2 separate regions of the Homo sapiens genome follow, and region 1 is linked to region 2. Evidence: fine-mapped expression QTL. Tissue or cell type: thyroid. Region 2 holds a variant in brackets; the other region holds the start of a gene. All regions are shown on one strand. Distances are between the middles of the regions.

What was found. PIP is the estimated chance that this variant, and not a neighbour inherited with it, causes the effect.
Region 1: SCAMP5 starts here. The variant in region 2 is fine-mapped to the expression of SCAMP5 in thyroid (GTEx, PIP above 0.99).

What each region holds. Positions count from the first base shown.
Region 1 is chr15:74,991,528-74,999,570 of GRCh38, reverse strand. It overlaps SCAMP5 (secretory carrier membrane protein 5), which reads right to left and starts at 4,008. Exons shown (of 7, transcript NM_138967.4): 1 at 3,898-4,008.
Region 2 is chr15:75,026,476-75,034,518 of GRCh38, reverse strand. It overlaps PPCDC (phosphopantothenoylcysteine decarboxylase), which reads right to left. Exons shown (of 6, transcript NM_021823.5): 2 at 6,066-6,272. The coding sequence starts at 6,200. Among named protein-coding and RNA genes, the nearest start is that of PPCDC, 6.9 kb to the right of the region's middle. RefSeq lists a silencer at 447-640 and enhancers at 2,595-3,095, 5,152-5,341. The variant C/T (reference allele first, on the strand shown) is at 3,066.

The DNA of each region.
Region 1 (8,043 bases), 35 kb after region 2:
CCAGGCTGGAGGGCAGTGGTGCGATCTCGGCTCACTGCAAGCTCCGCCTCGGGAAAACATGGGGGTGGTTCCACCTCCCCCACACACACCCCAACCACCCTCTACATGAGCAAAGGGCCTGGGGAGAGTAGTCCAGTTTGGAATACTCCTCCCATGGAATAGAAAGGGGAACTGATGGGAATGAGGAGAGGGGTTTCTATAAGTGATGAAGGGATGGCTGAGACTGGAGACCCTTCCTGGCAGCTCGGGTGACACACAGGCAAAGTGGCAAAGTGGTTGAGGGCATGGAGTTCAGAAAGAACACGGAAGAGGCAATTCATGAGATGGAGAAAATGGAGGTGTCTGAGAACTAGAGGTCTCCTTGAGGTCAGAGCACATAAAGCATTAGTTAGACTGTGGTCAGAGAGAAATACTAGAGTTTAAGATTTCAGAGGTGGCCACATGCCAATGAGGACCACATTCAGATGTAGTTGGTTAAAATGGTGACTGAAAGAGGCACTACCTCCCCTGAGACAATGGGACATGGAGTGGGAGACTGTGGTCCAGCACTAAAGACCTCCAGGAAAACAAGGAAGCAGAGGGAGAGGAGAAAACAACTAGAACATAGGGGCCTCAAAGGAGGAGTCTTCTCCCTAACCGGGCTCCAGCCTAACCCCTGTCCCTGGTCCCAGACAATCTCCCAAAAGTCTGCTTACAGTTCCAGAGAAGTCAGTGCAGCAAAGTATGAATAATTCAGAGCAGAAACCAGAGCAGAGGGCAAAGCTGCCTTGTTTGTATATAAAGGTTAGGGCAGAGAGAATCTGGGGCTTGAGAGGGTGGTAAAAGACTAGGGTCACAGAAATGGAAGGCTCCAGGCTTCTCTGCCCTTGTTTCTGGGAAGCCTTTGAAATGGGGGGTGGGGGGTTGGAGGGGAAGACAGCAATCACTGGCCTCTGCAAACCAAAGTTCTTTTTTTTTTTTTTTTTGAGATGGAGTTTCACTCTGTTGCCCAGGCTGGAGTGCAGTGGCACGATCTCAGCTAACTACAACCTCCTCCACCCAAGTTCGAACTATTCTCCTGCCTCAGCTTCCCTAGTAACTGGGATTACAGGCGTGCACCACCATGCCTGGCTAATTTTTGTATTTTTACTAGAGACACGGTTTCACCATGTTGGCCAGGCTGGTCTCGAACTCCTGACCTCAGGTGATCCACCCGCCTCGGCCTCCCCAAGTGCTGGGATTACAGGCATGAGCCACCGCGCCGGCCAAACCAAAGTTCTTAGACTACAAAACAGAAGAATTAGCAATCTGCTCAACTGATAATCTTTTATAATGGGGATAAGGGCTACATATCCCTCCAAAGATGTAGGCCTAGGGAAACACCTTAATTATCAATAAGATAGCAGTTACTACCTGAATTTTGTTCATGAAACCCTAACTATAATGTATTCCATTCCTTATTGTGAAGCTAGGACAGAAGCCCCCACAGTGGGGAGACTGAGGCCTCTGGCAGCAGACGAGGGTCAAGCCTGGCTTCAGATCAGGCCAGAGTCCTGGGGCTAACTCCAGGGCTCCCTGCTCACCAGTATGGGCCCCTCATCCCTGGCACAGAAATGGTGATTCCTTTTTGCTGCCCAGAGCCAACCTGCTAAGATGGAAGTTTCCCCCTCCTGCTCTACCTCCAATCCCCTCATCCCACTCCTAGCCCCATCTTCTGCCCTGAAATCCCAGAACTATGAATAATCCTCAGAAAACAGCAGTCTCCTGGCCATGCTGTCCCTGTCCTACTGATGACTATTCAGTAGCCTCCTACAGATCTTTGCCTGGCATTCAAGGCTTTGTGCCAGTCAGCTACAAACCTCCCTCCCACCACCTTTGGCTGCTCACAGGTTGACCTGCCTCCTACACTCCCAGCCTCATGCAGGAGATCATCTCTAGCCGCCCCCTCTGCTTCCAGTGCCCCTAAATTGGCAGCACTATCAGCTCCTCTAAGTCCTGCTACCTTCTCACATCCCACCCCTTCTGGGAAGCCTTTCCAAAAATCGCTGCTCTGCATCCCGCTGCATACATTTTGAGTCAGTCATTGGGCACTAAGTGTTCACGTCTTCTCCCATAATCTCCTCACTCCCTCCTGGATGGAGTTTCCAGGAGGGACCCAGCACAGAGCACAGTCAATCCATATACTTGCTTAAGACTTGGACACTTTCCCAATGGGTGGGAGGGAGGCAATTAACGCCCTCCCCCAATCAGATTAAGCCCAAAGCTGCTGTCAAACCTGCTGTATCACACTTCCTCCAGGAAACCTTCCGAAACTCCTGGCTGGCAGCAGGGAAGGAAGTGCAGCCTGTAAAGGAAATGCTGTGGGGGGCAAGGGGTGGGGATAGGGACAGGGAGGCAGAGGGATAGGGGAGGAAAGGAAAAGGAAGAGGGAGAAGAAAGGGGGGATGCTCTAAACTAGAACAAGGAGCATCCTCAAGGGAGGTCACTACTTAGTCCTATTATTTCATCTCTAGAGAAAGGTGCTAGAAAGAGATGCCCAGAGAGGGGAGGTGACTTGGGGAACTTGCTTGGAGGTGGCCACTCAGGAAACGGTTAAAGAAACAGCCACAGAGCCCAAGGTCTCTCTCTAGAACTCCCCTCCTGGGACCCCACTAACTCTCCAAGGGGTTTGCTAAACCTAAGACCCTCTTTCAGGGGCCCATTCACCAGAGACAGCCCCCTCTCAGCTCTAGAGACTTTGCCCTAAGGCTCACCAAGCCCAGAACAAACCTAAGTTAGCAAGACCTGTGTAGCCCCAAACAAAATCTCTCTGCCAATCATGCCCCTGCAAGAACCATCTCCCTCTTTCAGAGCCCTGCTCCGTGAGGCAGAACATGTAGGGGACAGGTTGCAAATTTCTCCAGACTCCACCACCCCATGGGCAGTCACATGGCTGAGCTCCCAGGCTCAGCCCCCAACAGCTGTGCTCGTTTTCATCCCTGTGCCTTTGCCCATACATTCTCCTGGAATGCCCTCTCTTGCCTCTCCTCCCACCCAAATCCCATCACCTCTGGAAGTCTCCTATTCGCTAGCTGTCGCCTCCCTTTCTCTCTGTGTCCCTGGGAAAGTCTGCCAGGCCCTCACTGATCTCCCCATCGGGAAGCTGGGACATTACTTGTTTAAGCCGCCTGTGACAGTGAATGCTCAGTCCGAGTCTCTACTTGGTTCCCCCAACCCACAGACCAGGAGCTCCCCGAGGCGGAGGACAAGGATCGGTTCACAAACACCTCACCTCCATCCTCGTGACCTCCGGCCAGCGTTGAAATGAGCCAAATCCGGCGCCCCCAACTCACCACCCAAAGCCCTGATGGAGCCCGCCTGGTGGCCTGGGCCAGCGCGCCCGTCGCCTCGCAACCCTGGGGCGGCTGAGGTCCGCCATCCAAAGGTCGGCCGCCCGAGGGAGGTGAGGGAAGTCAACCCGGGTCCACCTGCAGGCGCTAGTTGGAAGGAAAGGCCCAAAGGAAGCCACGGGCACCCCCTTCCAGTCGCCCCCATCCCCGGCTGCGCACGCCATCTCCAGAAGGCCGGTTTCCAGGGAACGCCAGGTGGGGCTGGCGGGGGGGATGGAGGGCCCAAAGCTCAGGCTCCAGATCCAGGGTCTGACGTCACCCAAAGGCCCAGTTCCCTCTGCGGGAGCCACAGATGGGAATGGGGGGGCTTGGGGGGCTCGGGGGGCCTGGGTGCGCCCTGAGCGCTCTCCCCCAGCCCCAAACAGTAAAGGTCACCTCCACTCCCACCTCTCCAGCAGTTCGGCCTTCTTCCTGCATCCAAAGGTGAAGTGTAGGAGGAACAAAGCTGCAGCCAGCGACCCCCACACCTCTCGCCCCGCGCCCAGCTTCCCTTCAAAGCTCTCCTCCCAGCCTTCATGCCCAGACTCACCTGCCGCGGCCGTTCGGCTGCCGAAAGGCCGCAGCGCTGCGCTGAGCTGCGCTGCACCCGAGCGATGCGGCGCGGAGCCGGCCGCGAGCCGCTCCGGGGCTGGGGGCGGGGAGCGCGCGCGCGCGCGCGCGCGCCCGAGGCCGTCTCTGCGCGCGCCCGCGCCGCCACTGCCTGCAGCAGTCACTCTCGCGAGACTTCCGCTCTGCTCCTAAGGCTGCTCCTCCTGAGCTCGCGAGAAGGACGACCCGGCCGCCCCGGCATCTTCCAGGAGCTGTCCGAGGTGCTAGTTCCCGGGCCCCGGCCGGATCAGGTGGTTGACGGGCACCTCAGGGACAAGAGCCTGGCGTGTAGGTGGAAGGAAGAGACCCAGAGATGGGAGCCTGGCACCAGCAGCCAGAGCCTCAGCTTCCATATCTGTAAACTGGGGAGAATAACCTCCTATACCTATGCCAGGAGCCTCTGGGACGTGCCAGAAAGGAGTGAGAAAGAGCTGAAAGCAGGAGAGTGTGGTGACTGCGGAAGGTCCTTCAGATCTGCAGGCGCAGGGGGAAAGAGAGAACAGAGGACGGAAGATCGGAGATGATATTCAGAGAGGCAAGGACACAGATCCACGGAAAGACGACATAGGAGGACGAGAAAGAAGAGCTGCAAACAGAGACAGAGACACACGGAGAGAGAGACTGAGATGAGAGCTCAAGGCCTGGAGAGAAAAAAGACATGGAAAGATAAGATAGGTAAGGGAGCATAATGAAGCAAGAAAGAGGCAAGAAATAGAGACAAATTACGCAAAGGAGCAGAGAGAGAGAGAGAGAGAGAGGAGAGGCTTAGAAAAAGAAAGAGACTCAGAAAAAGGAATGAAAGAGACAGTGATATGCAGAGATGAATACCAAGAGAGAGTAGAGGCAAGGGTAAATGTTTAAAAACCCAGAGCTTTGGAGGGTTGAGAGAGACCCACTTGGAGAGATGGGCTGGGAGTGAAGACAGGATTTTATTGTGATTGGTGTTTACATAGTAAACCTCCGTGGGATCTCTACAGGCAGGGCCAGGGCCACTGTCTGTCCTGCCAGCCAATTGCTCCTTCCCCTACACCATACACCCACCCTCCACCCCCCACCCACACCATCCTAGGCCTGGAAGGGGGCCTCAGTGGGTGGGAGACACTGCAGGGATTCTTTGCCTAGAATAAGGGCCCATTGTCTGGCTCCATCCTGCCAGGAGTGGGGCCTCACTCCCACAGCTGGCATGAAAAGGGGGTGGCAGTGAAAAAAGGCAGACAAGAACTAGTGTGGCAGAGGGGAAAAGGAGGGAGAGAGCCTCGGTGCCTGGGAAGGGCTGAGCAGGAAGCATCATCCTGCCACCAGGCCAACCAGGAAGGAAGGGTCCTGGGCTTCGGGGCAGGACAACTGGGTTCTGTGTCAGTCCTGTCCCTGGTTGACCCACATGCTGTCTCTCCCTGCTATAATGCAAGCCAAGGCTGATTTACAGAGCTGTGGAGAGCAGCCAATGAGATGACAACTGGGAACCTGTCGAAGTTATCAAGTGTGGCTGCTACAGGGAAAATGTTGGGAGTCCATGTGGGCCTCAGGAAAGATATAGGGGTTCACATAGGCCTTTAGGAGAGAGATCTGAGGTCCACACTGGGATCCACAAGGAAGATGTCTGGAAACCACATGGAATTTATAGGAGATATCTTGTGGTTCATGTAGGTCCTACAAGGGAAATATTGGGGTTCCCGTCTGATGACCACGGACAATTTTTCTCCACTCAGAAGAATCAGAAGGGTCTCCTATTTGATAAACAACTAACGTAGGAAGAGTGAGCAGGTCCAAAGTCAGAAGCCCACCTTTGTCCCAGTAGATTGTACCTTTCCTATTCAGGTAAATGGAAGGGAACAATGATCACTTAAACAAACGTTTACTTAATAGGCATTTGCTGGTTACCTACCATGAGAAGAAGCATACAGCAGTGGTTAAGAATATCAACCTAGAAGGCAGACCTTGCCCCTTCCCTGCAGTGTGAATTTGAGAAGGTACTAATCCTCACTGAACCTTAGTTTTCCACATATGTAAAATAAGGATGGTGATAATGGGACCCGTGTCTTAGGGTTCCTGCAAGGATGAAATGAATTAATACATGCAGACACATGTAACATATGGGACTGCCTGGTACACAGTAAGTATTTAATGATCTGTAAATAGATGGATAAAACAATTTTTAAAAATTAAAAATAAAGTATTTAAGCCAGGCACGGTGGGTCACGCCTATAATCCCAGCACTTTGGGAGGCCAAGGCAGGCGAATCACTTGAGGTCAGGAGTTCGAGACCAGCCTGGCCAACATGGTGAAACTTCATCTCTGCTAAAAATACAGAAATAGCCAGCCATGGTGGTGTGCACCTGTAATCCCAGCTACTCAGGAGGCTGAGGCACAAGAATCCCTTGAACCCAGGAGGTGGAGGTTGCAGTGAGCCTAGATGACGCCACTGCACTCCAGCCTAGGCGACAGACCAAGACTTCCTCTCAAAAAAATAAATAAATAAAGTATTTAAAGGTGCTAGCTCAAACTGCGTGGCAGGCACTGGAGACATGTCTTTGTTGTAGTGGAGGGCAGGGGTGAGAGAGCCTGTGCCAAACCATGCAGTAACACATTTCAAGCTTCTTTGCAGATGTGGAGAATGTCACATCTGCTCATATGCCATTACTCAAAGCAAGTCACATGGGTAAGCCCAAAATTAATTCATGGGGGTCAGGGAGGTATGCTACCCATACAGGATGCCAGATAAGTCACATGACAAATGGTGGGGACATTTAATCCCATTGCAGAGGGAGCAAGTAACTGGGAACAGGAACCCAATCAATCAATGTCCCACAGGGCCAGCTCCAGGCTGCTTATCTTTCCCTGCCTAGCTATGCCTGAATGAGGCATGTCCATCCAAGAGTCTCTGGGAGAATATTTATGTTACAGGCCAGTAAACGAATAAAAATAGAAGTATTTACTGAACTTTTAATGTCTGAGTGAAATGCTAAACTGCATGACCATCCTAAGAAATAAGTGCTATTGGGCCGGGCGCAGTGGCTCACACCTCTAATCCCAGCACTTTGGGAGGCCAAGGCGGGTGAATCACAAGGTCAAGAGATCGAGACCATCCTGGCTAATACGGTGAAACCCGGTCTCTACTGAAAATACAAAAAATTAGCCGAGCATGAGAGCGTGTGCCTGTAGTCCCAGCTGCTGGGAGGCTGAGGCAGGAGAATGGCATGAACCCAGGAGGCGGAGCTTGCAGTGAGCCGAGATCCCGCCACTGCACTCCAGCCTGGGCGACAGAGCGAGACTCGGTCTCAAAAAAAAAAAAAAAGAAAGAAAGAAAGAAGTGATACTATCCATATTCTATAGATGAGCCAAGTGAAATTCAGAGAGGTAAAGTGATCTGCCCAAGGAAATTGGATGGATAGATCTAAGAAATAAAAGAACCACTATCTTTAGGCTGGGTATCCCCAGAGGCAGACACTGAGATAAGGATGTTCATATAAATGGTCCATTTGAGAGATGATTCCGTGGAGCACTAGTAGGAGAGAGGGGGAGTGAAACAAACAAATGAAGAAAAGCAATATAGGGTGCAATAATCAGCAGATTACCACTGTGGACAAATGGGGCTTGACTGTATTGGGCATCTCTGGGAGAGTGAAGAAGACAAGGTACTCATCCCACTGAAGGAGTGATGACACTGATGATTTCTTCATTAGTTGAGAGCTGTTCCTGGCACCTCCAGCCTGCCGGAGTGCCTTCTGAGCAGAGAGCACCCTCAGGCAGAAAATCCCAGGGGCTTATAGTAAAAAAACATCAGGAGTGGCTAAAGGGGTATGGGAAGGGCACTGTGTTGTGACATCTACCACAGCCAGGACCTAAACCCATCAGCCTGGCTCCTGAGCCATCTTATGTCACCTCCATGATAATCCTGTTAATCACGTTATCATCCATGCTGTTAGTCCTGTGGAAGTTTACAATATGGAGTCTTCTTTCTTAACAAAGAGCCTCCCCTGACTGGCGCGGTGGCTCATGCCTGTAATCCCAACACTTTGGGAAGCCAAGGTGGGTGGATCACCTGAGGTCAGGAGTTCGAGACTAGCCTGGCCAACATGGTAAAACC
Region 2 (8,043 bases):
GCCTCCTTAACAAAACCCCCAAGGGAGTTCCGGTTGGCTCAGTGGGTTCCATGGCTCATGATGATGCCTCTACTCGGCAAACATTTACTAAGCCTCTTATATGGTGGGGGCAGGGCTGATAAGATCCAAGCTCTGGCCTCTCCTAGGGCTCAGTCTAACAGATAGGTGGGGTACAGGTAACCCCTAACTGCAAGGCAGACCAAGATAGGAATCCACAAATTCCACCATCCTCAAGCATTGGTGAGCTTGAGCAGAGAATGAGCTCCAGGTCTGAGCTCTTCAATTCACTCACTGATAGGACCCAGGAAACCTGGCCTCAAGCCCCCAGTTCTGCTAACTCACTCACTCCCTGGAAGGCCGTGGGCGAGACCCTCTTCCTCTGTGCCTGGTTTCCCCTTATGACCCATGCATGGGCCATTTAGACCACATGGTAGGGCTCCATCTAGCTCACCGTACCACCCCAGCCCTTCTGTGACCCTGACCTTTCCCACCTGGCTCTGCAGGAAACAGTCGTGCTCTCATCTGCCCCTGGGGGAGCTGGTGTTCTGGTTGTGTCAGCTCCTCATGCCAACCCTTCTGTGTGCTTCCCCAACTTCAGAAAATTCTCAAGAAGGAAACCAGGGAGGTGGTCTAGGGAGGCTCTGCACAGGAACGTTGTTCTGGGCAATCAGGGAAGGACCCTGGGGTGCGGGACCCTCTGCCCAGAGGCCGACAGAGCTCTGTCCCTAGAGGAGCAGGTGACAGGGCTGCAGGCCAGAGGAGGAAGGGGCCAGCCAAGCAGGCAGAGGCACAAATAAAGGTCTCAGAGTTTCCACATCAGGACACAGAGCGGGCAGGTGGCCCCCACCCAGAAAAAAAGAGAAATCCTCAAACCAGGCCTTATGTCTTCTGCTCTTTCCTCAGTGAGCACTTTAAAAAAAAAAAGCACAAACTTATCAAGAATGTTCCCCAATATTCCCACCAAAAGCCCCACTGACTTAAAACAAACAAACAAACAAAAAAACACACACACACAAATATACACATAGGTTACAAATTAAAACTGAACAGAATGATACAAAAATGAAAAATGCAAGTTTCCCTTCCTCCACTGGTCCCCCTTCACAAGGGTAACCACCTCCAGAGGAAAAAACTGTGTGCAGTAACTCAGTATAAGAACACACAGAAGGAATCAGGCTGCATACCAGGGGTCGGCAAACCTTCTCTATAAAGGGCCAGATGATATTTTAGGCTTTGTCGTAATGATTTAACTCTGTAGTAGCACGAATGCAGCCATAGGCAATACGTAAATGAATGGGTATGGCTGTGTTCCAATAAATTGTCTTGGACATGAAATCTGAATTTCATATCACTTTTTTTCCGAGTCATAAAATACTATTTTTCTTTTGACTTAATCATTTAAAAATGTAAAAATCAGGCCAGGCACAGTGGCACATGCTTGTAATCCCAGCACTTTGGGAGGTGGAGGCAGACAGATCACTTGAGCCCAGGAGTTTGAGACCAGCCTGGGCAACATAGCAAAATCCTGTATCTACAAAAAGAATGCAAAAAAATTAGCAGAGTGTGATGGCACGCCTGCAGTCCCAACTATTTGGGAGGCTGAGGTGGGAGGACTGCTTGAGCCTGGGAGGTCAAGGCTACAGTGAGCAGTGATCACACCACTGCACTCCAGCCTGAGCAACAGAACAAGACCCTGTCTCAAAAATAAATAATAAAAATTAAAATGTAAAAATCATTCTTAGCTGTAGGCTATACAAAAACAGGCAGAGCCGAATTTGGCCTTGGGGGGGGGGGTCCAGTTTGCTAGCTCCTACACCCTGCTTATTCCGCTTCCATCTTGATGATTGCTCCCTTCAGCACAGAGAGAGCCACCCCATTTTTCTGAATCATTGCCAAGTAATCCACTGAGAGATTGTCCCATAAATCATAAGGGCACCACAGCTCTCTACTGCTGGATATTTTGTTTGCTTCCAGTTTTGCTTTGAAATTATAAATAATGCTATAATGGACATCCTTTCACTTTGTAAATACACCCCACAGAGTTTAATCCTGTGGGTAAATCAAGGACTATGAAGATGTTTTAATTTCTCTCAATATTGTCAAGTGGTCCTCCAGAAAGTCAGAATTTACTCCACACTGCATATGAGCAGAGCCTTCTTTTCCTCACCCTCGACAGACCTGGATGTCCTGACAGACACCCTAGAAATGTATCCTTCTCTGAGCCCGAGGCCTGCTGACTCCTTGAGTTGGGGGTTTTCTCTATCTTTAGAAATCCCCTTTTGGCTCTGAATTCTGCTGACACCTGCCCTGGCAAAAGCTAGGGCGATGTCTGTCTTCTCCTCCCAAGTTTGAAGGGTGTGGATGAAGGAGTTCAGGAAATGCCACCCCATAATATGCGGCTTTGGTATGCTGATTATTTCAAACCTGAAGGCACTGGGGGAAAAACAAATGCAGGGAGGAACTTTCTCTGAACTTCTCTTATCTGCCTAAAGAGGGATTCCCCTTGTCCTGAGTCCCCCTCCCTGAGAAAGGAAGACTGACTTATTGACAATCTGCTGAGGCATCTTTTATTATCTGAGAGGTTTTTATCTGCCTAACAAGACCGTATAATTCCTCCCCTCACCCTCCCATAACTTGTGTCGCCACCACCCCCAGAAGCCCCAAGCCCCTATTTCCTTCTGTAGCTCAGGCTGCTATACAGGCTTCAGCCATCTCACCCTTCTGGGAATCTCATATTTTGTGGTACACCCATGTGCAGATATGTAACTAAATATGGTTTTCTCCTGTTGATCTTGTTTTTTGTTGTTATTGTTTTGAGATGGAGTCTTGCTCTGTTACCCAGACTGGAGTGCAGTGGCATGATCTCAGCTCACTGCAACCTCTGCCTTCTGGGTTCAAGCGATTCTCCTGCCTCCGCCTCCTGAGTAACTGGGATTATAGGCGCCCACCACAACCGGGTAATTTTTGTATTTTTAGTAGAGCTGGGGTTTTACCATGTTGGCTAGGGTGGTCTCGAACTGGCCTCAAGTGATCCGCCCGCCTCAGCCTCCCAAAGTGAGCCACCG[C/T]GCCCGGCCCTGTTAATTTTGTTTATAAGTCAGTTGAACTCATAGCCCAGCCAAGCAGCCTAGCAAGATGGAGGAAAGCCATTTTTGCTCCCCTGCATGGGCCAGGCTGCCAACCCCAGGGAAGAAACTGCCTGAGCTGACAACCCGGATTTTACTGCCACTCAATTACATGACAACTACGGAACTACAAAACCCCCGGCATCCTGAAGCTCCTGAGCCCCAGGACCTTCTCTCAGGCTGCCTTTGGGTCCTAGTCCTTTTTGCCCTCACATCTAGAATCTTCTAACACCAGTGCCAGAAGAGGCCCTGGAGATGGATCATTTGAGAACCTGCCCCTCCTTCACTGTGTGGATAAGAAAATTATGGCCAAAAAGAACGGACTTGCCCAGGGTCCCAGCGTCAGAAATGTGCTCAGCTGCCTCTCTTGTGACACGGTTGCCCACCTGCCCCAACATACTCAAGGTCATCTCTGCTAGTGACTACTCTCCCTGACTGCTGGTGTGTGTGGCTTGTGGCTAATCCATGTCTCTCCACCACCCCTCACAGTCTCCCTGATTTGGCTACCTTGACATTAGCGGCTTTCCCGGGATGTCTGGACATACTGGTCAATCAGGAACAGTGATGGGCCAGATCTGTAGAATCCCCCAGCTCCCTGCAGCCCACACCCCAGCTGTTCATGTGCTAGACAAAATCTGGATGTACCTAAGGAAGTTCCGGAAAGCCTTGAGCACCTGAACCCACGACTCAGCAGGTGAAGAGCTGAAAGTGACTGCTCCAAGGGACAATGATGCTCCTGCAGGAGATCCAGCAGGAGGCAATGTGGAGATCAGGGCCATCAGGGAGTGAAGGGGAGTGTGCAGGGATAGACGCCACCACTGGGGCCAACACAAGGCAATCCAGGGATTACCTTTGGATCCCAACACCTCACGAGGGCCCTAATAAGCAAGGCCAGGCTTGGAGAGCTGTCTCCCTGCAGATGAAAGGCATGGGCCCTCCACAAGAGCAGGTGAACTGTGGCTTCCATGGCTCTTCCCAGTGGGGTTGCCCCACACCATGTGGCTGGCCCAAAGGACATGAACAAGGGGAAAGGACAGGGTGATGGCCAGGAAACACACACAACCGAGTGCTTCAACATGCCAGGCTCTGTGCTGAGTCACTGGCACAGGACCATTTTCATCTGTGACCCCTCCCACCCCAGCCAACATCTCAGGGAGCCTGACAAGAGTCTGGGGGATGGGCAGCAGGAATCAGCCCTATTTTCAAATGGGAAAGGCAAGCTCCAAGAGGCTGAGTCGGGGAGCCCTCCCTCCCAGTTCAGTGCCCTCTGGCTGCCTCACTTTTGGCATCAACTCCAACCAGAGAGGGGAAGCCAAGTCCTGTTCCAGACATGGCCTGCCATCCCATGGGGCCCAGGCTAAAAGGCCCTGGGGTGGGCTGGAGCACCTCCCTGCTCCAGGCAACCCTTTCCTCACAACCCCCCTCCCACCAAACGCTGGCTGCGTGGGATGGGAGGAAGCGGTAGGGTTGCCATTTCCCTCCGCTCTGAGGCTGCCCATCTGTTTCCTGGGATAGGACTCCCCGCCCCTATCCACCCCTAGTCCGGAAACTCACTTGCCCTGGGGCTATGGGAAAAGGGAACTGCATGGCTCCCTCCCTCCCCAGGGGGTGGTGGCAGAGGCCTCCCACCCTCACGGCTCTAGCTGGGCAGCTCCTACCAATGCTTCTGGGTACACAGCGGGTGGCTGGGCCTAAGCAGCACTGCCCTAAAAGTGCAGCACCCAGTGTCAGAGTGCCACGAGACTCTCCTCCCTCCCCCACTCTGGCCTGGCTGTCATCCCTGGCTGGCAGCTTCATGGCTTATCCCAGCCCTGGGGGTGGGGTGATGGGGTGACTTTCTGGGTGGAAGTTGGTGGAAAGTAAAAAAGTGAAACACTTCCCAGCCCAGCCCCAGCTGATGTGACCACGTGGTCATCTGTGAGTAAGCACCGCCCCCTGCTGGACATGCCAGATACGGCCACTGCACCTTGGGTGCTCAGCTGATAACAAGAGGGAAAAGCCAGGCCTGGGGCCCAGCAACTTCACAAGACCCCACCAAAAACTAGGGGCCAGTAACACCAGCAGTGTCTAAGGCAACCTATAGTTCTATGTCAAATAAGTTTAAAAGAAGGGGCCAAAACCACAGGGGCTGGGCTGGGGCAGACAGGGAAGGCTTTGCACAGAATGTGAAAAGGCGAGAGAGGAGCAGAGAGGGCAGCCAGCCTAGCAGGGCCCAGCCACGCAAAGACCAAGGGGGATAAGACAGACCAACTAAGGGCCCTGGAGGTGGAACTAGGAAGTGGGGCCACTCCCTGTTAGATTTCACGCTGTTTAAAGCCTTGAACTTCTGCACCAGAACCCCAATATAGAAAATAGATCCAAGTTGAGGGTCTGGCCAAGGACGGGGGCTAGAGTCCCTCACCCCAGCACACAGTCGGGGGCCCCTGGGGCAGCTCTGAACACCTGAAGGAGCAAAGTTTGAACCTAGAGCTTCAGACAATGGGGTTTCAGAGCATTTGACTGACAAGACAACCATGAGGTCTCACGAGGAGGGAGAACACAGCCGCAGTGTTCAAGGCGGAATGAAAGCAGGGATGGGGAAGCCCAAGGCAGGAGGGGATACTGAGAACTTGCTGCACTTCTCCAGCCAGCCCTCCTCCCACACAGGACTTCACGGATTCTCAGGGTTAATGTATGGGAGCCCAAACCCTCCGTTCACTGGGTCCTTTCCCAGTCTCCCCTCATGCCCTGTCTGTACTATCTAATCTAGCCCCTGGTTACACTGGGCACTGGTCTCTGTCTCCTGAATCCTCCACAGAGCACCACACACACAGGACCTCCACAAGCATGATTAACATGATAAAGAAAAAGAAAATTGCATGTACTGCAGAGCAATGGGCCATCCCCGGGAGCACCGGCCTCCCATGCCGGAGGCTGCCATGCTTATCTGGTGAGGATACTCACCCCAGGAATGTCCAAAAGCTTTGACACCAGAAGAGGCAACTTCAGGGCTGCGACACTCCCCGTGACACCCACAAGAACATGGAATTTTCTCTCCATCAAGGGTGCAGCAGCTGGACAGGAGGCCTTTGGTTCCATGTGGGGTCTGGTGGCTTCAAGTTCTGGGAGCCTGCCAGGCCTGGGCTCTATAAAGCTGTCGGGATTTAGGATCTAAAAGGAGAACAAGGGCCACCCCCTTCATTCATACAGTCGACCAGAATGTATGGAGCACCACGTATTAGGCCCCAGGCCAGAGGCTGAGGCAGCGGAAGGGATCAGCAGTCCTGGCTTCAGGGAGCACACAGTTTGATAAGAAAGTGAGACACCTTCCCCACACATGGGCCAGTCACAAGGGAATGATGCAGTGCTGTGGGGAAGGGCTGTACCAGGTGCGTGGCTGCTCAGGGTGACCATCTCTAGAAGTCAGAGATTGCATCCCAGAAAAAATGACATTGGGGTTGAGTCCTGAAGGATGAGTTAGTTTTTCAGAGACAGGAAGAAATCACTTCAAAGGAAGGAACAATCTTGCCAAGGTGAAGGTCCTGAGGAGGGTGGCAGGTTGGGGAACAGGGAGTGGCTTACTAGTGAGGCCGGACTGTGATGGGGGGTGGTAGAGGGGCAGAAAGTGAGACTGAAAGTCAGGGTGAGGCCAGAATGCCGTGGGCAGCGAGGGCCAGGGTGAGGAGTTTTGGTTTTAGAAAGACGGTGCTGGCACCTGGTGACAGTGTCAAAGGGACCCTGTTAGTGGAGAGACTGGAGGGCGAGAGGAGCTGCTGCGGTGGACTGGGCTGACTGGTGAAAGGAAGCGGCAGGAAGGGATGGGTTCCAAAGATGCTCATGAGGTGGAACCCTGGGCAACAGGGAGGTTTGGGTGCTCCAGGGAGCCAAGAGATTTGCCTCTCTGTCCCTGTCCCTGTTAATCAAGATGGGCACCACCGTACAAATCAAAGCCCAGGAAGAAACCAGCATAAAGGGGATGCAGGCCACCCCAGGAGATTAGCTGGTTTGCTTCTTCCTCTGGCTCTCAGACGTTGCTAGAAGTGTGCACTCATGATAATATGGCTGATGGACACCAAAACCTACACGTGGCGGGTTGGGCCAGCAGAACGTGCTTCATCAGCAACCATCACTGAGGACCGATTACAAAGAACACCATGCAAAGGAATTGTGGAAAACACAGTAGCTGCCTCTGGGGAATCTGTAGGTTGAGTTTGAGAAGACAGGAATGACACCTGTCTGAAATTATTTGAGATCAGTCCTTCCCTGGGATGCACCTTTTTGGTGATCACAGACTCAATTAACACATCAGTTTCCTTGCCTCTCCCTCCACCAGCAAGCTCCCTGAATGTGTGACCGGGTCTAATTGCCAACCAGCAGTCCACTAGCCGGCAGTCCTGAACAGGTGCTGAATGAATAACTATACCCTCCAAGGCAGTGTGAGCAGAAGACAGATACCTAGCCTGTGAAGCAGAAGCCCTGGGCCCTGACCATGGTGTGCTCCTGACCTGGAGTGACCCTGGTCCAGGGTCATTCCCTCCCTGGACCTGTCCCTTCATCTGAAAAATGCAGAGGTAGGACCAGATGATCTCTGAAGCTCCTTCCAGCAGAAACTTTGAGTCAATACATGAAAGAGAGCAGTAAGGGGCTCTCCTTCCAAGACAGAAGGTCCTAGAAGATGCACTCAAAAAAGAATCAGCATGGCAAGGGAAACCCAGGCAGCTGCCCAGGAAGCAGCGCTGGTGAGTTGTCCAATGGCTACCTCCATGGCTGAGCATCCACAGGGGCCTATCTCCTCTTCACTCACAGGCCCCTTGGCTCTCTAGCCTCTCTGCCCAGGATTTGCCTTCAGCACTTGAGCACAACCCACGTGGGCTGAGGATCATGTTTGGCTGCATTATCCCACTTCTCAGCAGGGGTTAAGCACAGGCTGGTTCCCTAGGGC